Homo sapiens: one gene and its partner. The protein of the gene in region 2 purifies or fractionates together with the protein of the main gene of each other region. This does not show direct contact. Each region holds a gene or a part of one and is shown on either strand. Other genes may lie near its edges. The genes, in order: MX1 and TRPC1.

Evidence for each region.
Region 1: the proteins of TRPC1 (region 2) and MX1 purify together in Homo sapiens (co-immunoprecipitation; one study listed by IntAct). This does not show direct contact.

Annotation. Positions count from the first base shown.
Region 1 is NC_000021.9:41,439,617-41,443,441, reverse strand, and holds part of MX1 (interferon-induced GTP-binding protein Mx1), read right to left. Parts: intron 3,749-3,825; coding exon 3,594-3,748; intron 2,556-3,593; coding exon 2,417-2,555; intron 1,727-2,416; coding exon 1,528-1,726; intron 1-1,527.
Region 2 is NC_000003.12:142,783,032-142,786,856, reverse strand, and holds part of TRPC1 (short transient receptor potential channel 1), read right to left. Parts: intron 2,154-3,825; coding exon 1,817-2,153; intron 1-1,816. UniProt on the Homo sapiens protein: Forms a receptor-activated non-selective calcium permeant cation channel. Forms a heteromeric ion channel with TRPC4 or TRPC5 that has reduced calcium permeability compared to the homomeric TRPC4 or TRPC5 channel.

The DNA of each region.
Region 1 (3,825 bases), on a different chromosome or scaffold from region 2:
ATCATAATGGATACAGACATATCTTCATACAAATACATTGAAGCATATTGAGATAAATGGGTAGCAGAACACTGAGGAGAAGAGACACAAGATATCTTGTCCAAGATAAAAACTTAAACCATGGGCTGCCTGGAGGAAGGAAGTCAAGTATCTTCTCACTCGATCCAAATTTGTGCTCACAGAGTGAGTTATTACAGGGTTTCCCACATTTTATAGGACATTTTAGGATAAAGGCAGCAGTGAAGCATGAGTTTCTGTGCCTTTTTGTGAGTATACTCATACCTAAGCTTCAGTTTCTCTGTCAATTTTTCTAAATTGTGGTAAACTACATATAAAATTGACCATTTAACCATCTTTAAGAGTACACTTGAGTGGCATTAAGTACATTCACACTATTATGCAACCATCACCACTGTCTGTCTTCAGAACTTTTCATATTCCCAAACTGAAACAATGGCCCCATTAAACACTACCTGCCCATTCTCTCTCTCCCAGCCCCTGGTGCCCATCATTCTTTCTGTCTCTATGAATCTGACTACTCCAGGGACCTCAGCTAAGTGGAATCAGACAGTATCCGTCCTCTTACGACTGGGTTCTTTCACTTAGTAGAATGTTCCCAAGCTTCATCCATGTTGTAGCATGTGTCAGAATGTCTTTCCTTTCTAAGGCTGAAAGTATTCCATGTTTTTGTACAGACCACATTGCTTTCTGCATCCATCCATCAATGGACACTGAATCATCTCATCTTCTGGCAATTGTGAATGTGCAGAACAGGATGTAAGTTTCCATTTGATATTCCTGGAATTCTGAGTAATGGCTCTCTGTAGGCTTCTGGGAGAACTGAATGTAAGAATGTTTACAACTCTACATAGTCTCATCATTTTAAATCTTACCAATTTGTCAGTCTTTTCCTTTTAAAAAATGTCACTTTTGGTAGGAGGGATAGAAAAATCTTATAAACTATTCACCTACCTTTCTTCTGAGATGCTTATTGCTTCCTCTTAATATTTAACTTTAAACTTTAACTATTTTGGTATAATGAGATAAGTAAGGGCAGTATTTTAGTTTTTTCCCAAATATTAATTATCCTAACACCACTAATAGATACTCAAGCTGATATAGTCCACTATTTGATTTGAAATGCTGCATTTATCATGTGTCAAATATATATATCTAGGTCTATTTCTGGGCTTTCTACTTTTTTCCTATTCTCTTCTATTTATGTTTTTATAAAATATGGTTCCAGCACCATGCTACGTAAATTATTGTACATTGTTCTCTCCCTATTTTGATTGGTTTTTAGTTTTTTTTTTCTTGGCAGTATTTTGTAATCCCCTTCCTATTCTTCTAGGTGAATTCCATAGTCCTTGTTGGGGAACAAGCATAGTCACACACACACGCGCACACACACACACGCACACACACACACACACACTCCACACATCTGTGGGACGGCTGCCACTGTCCCCTGGAAGGCCTGACATCCTGGGCTTGGACTGATCCATGATGAAACCCAGGCAAGCGCACCTGAAATATGGGTGGTTCTCAAAGAAGATCTTCTCTCTCTGCAGGGCTTCGGACAGGCTCAGCTGGTCCTGGATCTCCTGCTGGCCCCGGCACTTGACAATCATGTAACCCTTCTTCAGGTGGAACACGAGGTTCCGCACCACGTCCACAACCTTGTCTTCAGTTCCTTTGTCCACCAGATCAGGCTTCGTCAAGATTCCTGCGAGCCAGATGTATTTGGGGAGAGAACGTGCTCAGTCACGAGGCAGAGGTGAACGAACAACTGCTCACGCCCCCGGCCTCCCAGGGTTTCCTCCCATCCTTGCTTGAGGACAGGCCATAGCCCCTGCAGAACCATGGGGGCAGTGGAGCCCCGCTCCAGAAAAGAACTCCACGACAAGCCGCGTGAAGGCAGGGATGCCTCCCAGAACAGCATGTGGCTCTCCCCAAGCTCCTTCACCCGGGTCCACTGTAGAACACGCCACGTTTTGTTTATCCCTTGAGTTATGGACATCCCATCTCAAATGCATTCTTAATGAGTACCATGTGCCTCCTGAGTTTGACCTGCTTCCGAGCCCACTGTGCCTTTCTGAGCAAGTAGATAAGGCTTACAAGGCAACCTAGCCAGTGAGAGTCAAAAGCAGCTCATTTCACTTGGCCTTGGTGGGCACCAAACCTGCTCCCTTAGCAGGTCTTAGTGGAGGCAGGTCCCCACTGAGCAAAGCCCATGGAGACTGGAGGGACGCTTGCCCACTGGCAGACCACCGAGCACAGGCGGGCTCCCCCATTCTCACCGAGCACAGGCGGGCTCCCCCATTCTCACCGAGCACAGGTGGGCTCCCCCATTCTCACCGAGCACAGGCGGGCTCCCCCATTCTCACTGAGCACAGTGGGGCTCCCCCACTCTCACCGATGGTCCTGTCTCCCTCGGGGTCCACCTCCTGGGCCATGCTGAGAGCCTCTGTGGTGGCGATGTCCACATTACTGGGGACCACCACCAGGCTGATTGTCTCCTGCCTCTGGATGTACTTCTTGATGAGTGTCTTGATCTGTAAGGAAATGAGAGGAGGTGACTCGTGAGTATGGCAAAGGCAAGTGAGAGGTGAGACAAGTCCTGACCTTGCACTTGCTTTAGGCCCTAAGAGTCCCAGGGGTATTTCCCCCAAAAGAAGTAACTTTGGAGAAATGAACCCACAAACACAACCCTGGAGGTACCAAGCTGGAATTATGAGAAAATAAATTATCTGTGGCAGAAGCAGAGCTATAGGCTCAGGGAAAACCATGAAGTTTCAGATAATTAACCCCTAAGACCTCAGATCTGATGGTCACAATGAAAAATGGTGGCCAAAAAACCCCACTTCACCCCTAAATCTTTAATCTGTAAAGTGAGATTCACTGATACTAAAATATCATTATACCTATTTCTTTCTTGCTTGTTTTGTTTTGTTTTTTGTTTTGAGACAGATTCTTGCTCTGTTGCCCAGGCTGGAGTGCAGTGGCACAATCACGGCTCATCACAGCCTCCCTGGTTCAAGCAATCCTCCTAGTAGCTGACAGGTGCACGCCACCATACCTGGCTAATTTTTTAACCTTTCTTTTATAGAGAAGGGGGTCTCACTATGTTGCTCAGGTTTCTGTCAAACTCTTGGGCTCAAGGAATCCTCCTGCCTCAGCCTCCCAAAGTGCTGGGATTATAGGACTGAGCCACTGTGTGTGGCCCATTATACTTATTTTTAATGCTCTCTTCCCACATAAGACCCCTTCCTAATACACAGCACTTTAGATATGCTGCAAAATGTATATAACCAAAAACAAGTCATTGCATAAAACATAAAACAAATACACAGAACACATTTCCAACTGTGCCCACTGGCCTCACTTTCTCCAAAGAAGCTTCCATTCAACTTGACAGAACAGACTGTGACCAACGGGCTCTCTAAATTCCCCACTCACACCTCCAAATACTAACTCCAAAACTCAGCTCTGGACTCACGGTTACTCTAATACAGTACCCTCTTTCTCCTCCCACCCCTCCACTCCCCCATCCCCACGCCACGGCCAAGGTCAGAATGGGTCTGAAGTCTGACCTTATACCCAATGTCAGCAGGCTGATTGCCCACAGCCACTCTGGTTATGCCAGGAAGGTCTATTAGAGTCAGATCCGGGACATCTCGGGAGCTGATCTCCAGGGTGATTAGCTCATGACTGATTCCCATTCCTTCCCCGGCGATGGCATTCTGGGCTAGAAAAGAGACAGGGAAAATCAAACCCAAACAGAGCTTAGGATAAACGGATCTCATGATGGTGAATACTCTGAAA
Region 2 (3,825 bases):
ACACAGAAAATATTCTTTCTTACTACTAAACAATAGGTTATAGATAAATGTTATAAAATTTCATCTGTTTAAGACTAAGGAATATATAACAATCAGAAATAGTTTAAATGAATATAGGGAAAGTGCTCCTTAGCGATTCTCTTCAAACTAATGTGTAAAATTCTTCCAGGAATTTTTTAACTACTCAACTAGCAATACAAACATATTTCACATTGAAAGAGTCCCACAGTCCAATATAAAACCATATATGGTAAAGTTTAAATTATTTCCTAAATTAAAAGATTAAATTTTAGATAAGAGCAAAACTACAGGAAATAAAAATATTAACAAGAAGGAATTATTTAATTCTCTTTAACCTAGAGTTTAGATGTGTATTATTTTATCTACCTAATTTTAAACATTAATGCATCATAGATTAAATACTGTTAAAAGCAAAACTCTAATTACAATCTAGTTACCTGAAATTAACTGATTTTCAAATAAACATTCTAAAATATAAAAAGTATTTGTATAGCTAAAGAGCTAAAATTGAACATTGTGAAATAACTTATGAAAGTACTAAATAATTGAAACAATCAGGAATGTAGTAATCAAAAGATAAATACACTCAGTACTTTGTGCCATAGATAAGACTAAATTTTATTACCCTTTTACTCTATAGCAAATAGTAGACGGACAGATGGGAAGTGCTGAGGTTAAAAACAAGGTAGAAGATACAGAGGGAAATAAAGAAAATATCTTTAAAATACCATAAACAGATAATGTGATTCTACCTCAACTCTCCACACGCACCCCGACACACAGAAGGCAAGACGAGTAAAAATTGTAGAAGATGATTTAAGACATTTATTATACAGTGTAATACTTATAAAAATAATTTTCAGGAATAAAATGTCTTATACTTTTTAAAAAACTATCATTTCTAAAGAGATCTGGCTATCTCTACAAAGAAATGATTTATGGAATGAGTCACCAGGGACTCCTTTAAATCTAAATTTAAACAATGTTTCCAAAATAGAGATAAAGCAAGATATATCTGCAAAAGTTCATAGGTTCTAGGCCGGGCACGGTGGCTCAGGCCTATAATCCCAGCACTTTGGGAGGCTGAGGCAGGAGGATTACGAAGTCAGGAGTTCGAGACCAGCCTGGCCAATGAAGTGAAACCCCATCTCTACTAAAAATACAAAAATTAGCCAGGTGTGGTGGCACGCACCTGTAATCCCAGCTACTGGGAGGCTAAGGCAGGAGAATCGTTTGAACCCGGGAGGCGGAGGTTGCAGTAAGCCAAGACTGTGCCATTGCACTCCAGCCTGGGCGACAGAGCGAGACTCTGTCTCAAACAAAACAAAACAAAACAAAACAAAAACCAAAAAGCTCATAGGTTCTTAAAAGGAAAACTAATGTTATAAATGAAATAGAATAGTTAACTTTAAAAATGCACAACAGTATAAAATAGATTGTTTCAAAATACCTAAGAAAACTTCATATTCTTACACCAAAAAAGCATTCATGTGTTAAAGCTGATTTTCTGTTTTACAATCATGAATAACCATAGAGTCTGAGAATAAATAATTTTAAAATTCCATGTATTTAAGAAATATTAAATAAGAGAGATGCTTCCTTATCATCAAGTTCAGGAACATTTATCTTTACAGACATGTTAGTTAAGTCTTCAGTGATCATGGAAGTGTTCAAATTCTTGTGGTGTGAACAGTGTAAAATTGCAAATTGAACCCAATATTCACAATGCCATCAATCAAGAAAGAATCAGTGGGCTAAATAAAGACAAAACCTTTCAAACTAACTTGATACTTACCAATAATCCACAGAATAAGAAGATAGTCTATTCTTTCAAGGGCTGGCCCCATTGTGTTTTTCTTATCCTCATTGTAGACAAGAGAGTATAGATTAAGCAACAGCAGAAATGTGAAATATGATGCTCCATGAATGATAAATTTCATAAAAGGTGTGTGAATGATTCTGCCAAACTGAGATTTGGGAGCTATCAAATAACAAAGTGACAAAACTGGCCAAAAGATGCCTACTGTCAAAACAGTCATTATCTTCTTACAGGTGGGCTTGCGTCGGTAACCCGACATCTGTCCAAACCAAACAGTGTTCAGGAACTGCTGGCAGTTAGACTGGGAGACAAACTGAAAAGGACATACACACACATTAAAAAGAAAAAAAGTAAAAGGAAACCTTTAAATACTGATTGGTTGATATTCAAAGTTTACTGAATAAGAGTTTAAAAATCAATTCTATACATTCAACATAGTTTTGTTTTTTCCCTTTTTCTAACAATAAAAGCATGTAGAGGTTAAGAGGATAGACTATGGAGCCAGATTACCTAGATTCAAATCTGGGCTCTGCTACTTGGTAAATGACCTTTAACAAGTTTTTAAATTTCTCTAAGCCTCAACTTCCCCATCTGTAAAATGGGAATAATAATAGTATCTACTAATAAAGTTGTGAAGATTAAAGGTAAAGCCCTCAGAATAGCGCCTGGTTCATAGCATGCACTCTATAAGTATTAACTATTATTATTAGCTTACTTAGCCATTTTTTCATGTTTAATATATAAAAACTCATAATAATATTTATGAAATTTCAAAGTTATCATGCACAATCCATAGAAAAAGATACCACTAACTAATGTTGGACATCTTCAGTCTAGAGAAACTATTGATTTTAGTTACCAGAAGCCAAGAAGTCAAGATAGCAAAAACAATAAAAAGCTAAATATTAGACCTATTCTTGCTCCAAGAAAGCACTGCGGATTTCTTAAAAGGTATTAAAGACACTCTTAAGCCTGATTAAAACTGAATTTCATGTGAGAAGAAAGGAAAAATATTCCCAAATATGAGAAAAATTTTAGTTCAGGTACAGAAACTAATTTACCAAAGTTTACAAATCTTCTTAGTTGACAAATTTCATAGGCAATATTTTTCCAATATAATGCTCATGTTGTGAAGTATAACTTAAGGGTCCTGATAATTCTATATATACTCATGTGATCAGGTTTGAAATTATTATAAAATGACATTATTCAGGTAATCCACAATAATATTTGGTCAACCTTCTGTTTTAAAATGATTTATCCCAAAACAGAATATAATTTGTAGAATTAACACTGTAGTGAAAAAAAGAATTGGACAGAGTTTTGTTGTTTATTGTGCTTTCAAGAAAATTTCTAGTATACTGTAGAGTTGGCCCTCTGTATCTCTGTGTCCTACATCTGTGGATTAAACCAACCATGGATCAACAATATTTGGAAGAAAAAATTCACAAAGTTCCAAATAAGCAAAACTTGAATATTCTTCACAGCAAGTACTATGTTGAATCCACATGAATGAAATGATGTGTAGGCACTGTATTAGGTGTTATAAGTAATTGAAAGATACTTTAAAGTATATGGGAAGATGTGTGTATGTTATATGCAAATACTTATTTTTGGCAATACTTCATTCTTTACTCTTCTGCTCAGATTCCAATGTTCTTGGGAAATCTTAATTTGTCCCTCAAGGTGAAATGCCTGGGAGAGAAACAGCTTTTCCTCTCACCAATGACCAGGTTTAGTAAATCTCAAATTTAGTAGTGTCACCTTTCCTCCAAATATCAAAGCAATCTCAGGACTGATTACTGTCCTTGCTATCCCTCTATACAATGACAATTTAATTTGCAGTAATGTTAACTATGTATTTGGAATAAAAAGTTTAACTAGAAATGTTCTAAGTCTGCAGTGAAAGATGGACACGCTTTCTTCCCATCATCAAGAGGTGGGGAAGGAGGAAGTCAAAATTTCCTACTCTTCAATTCAACAGG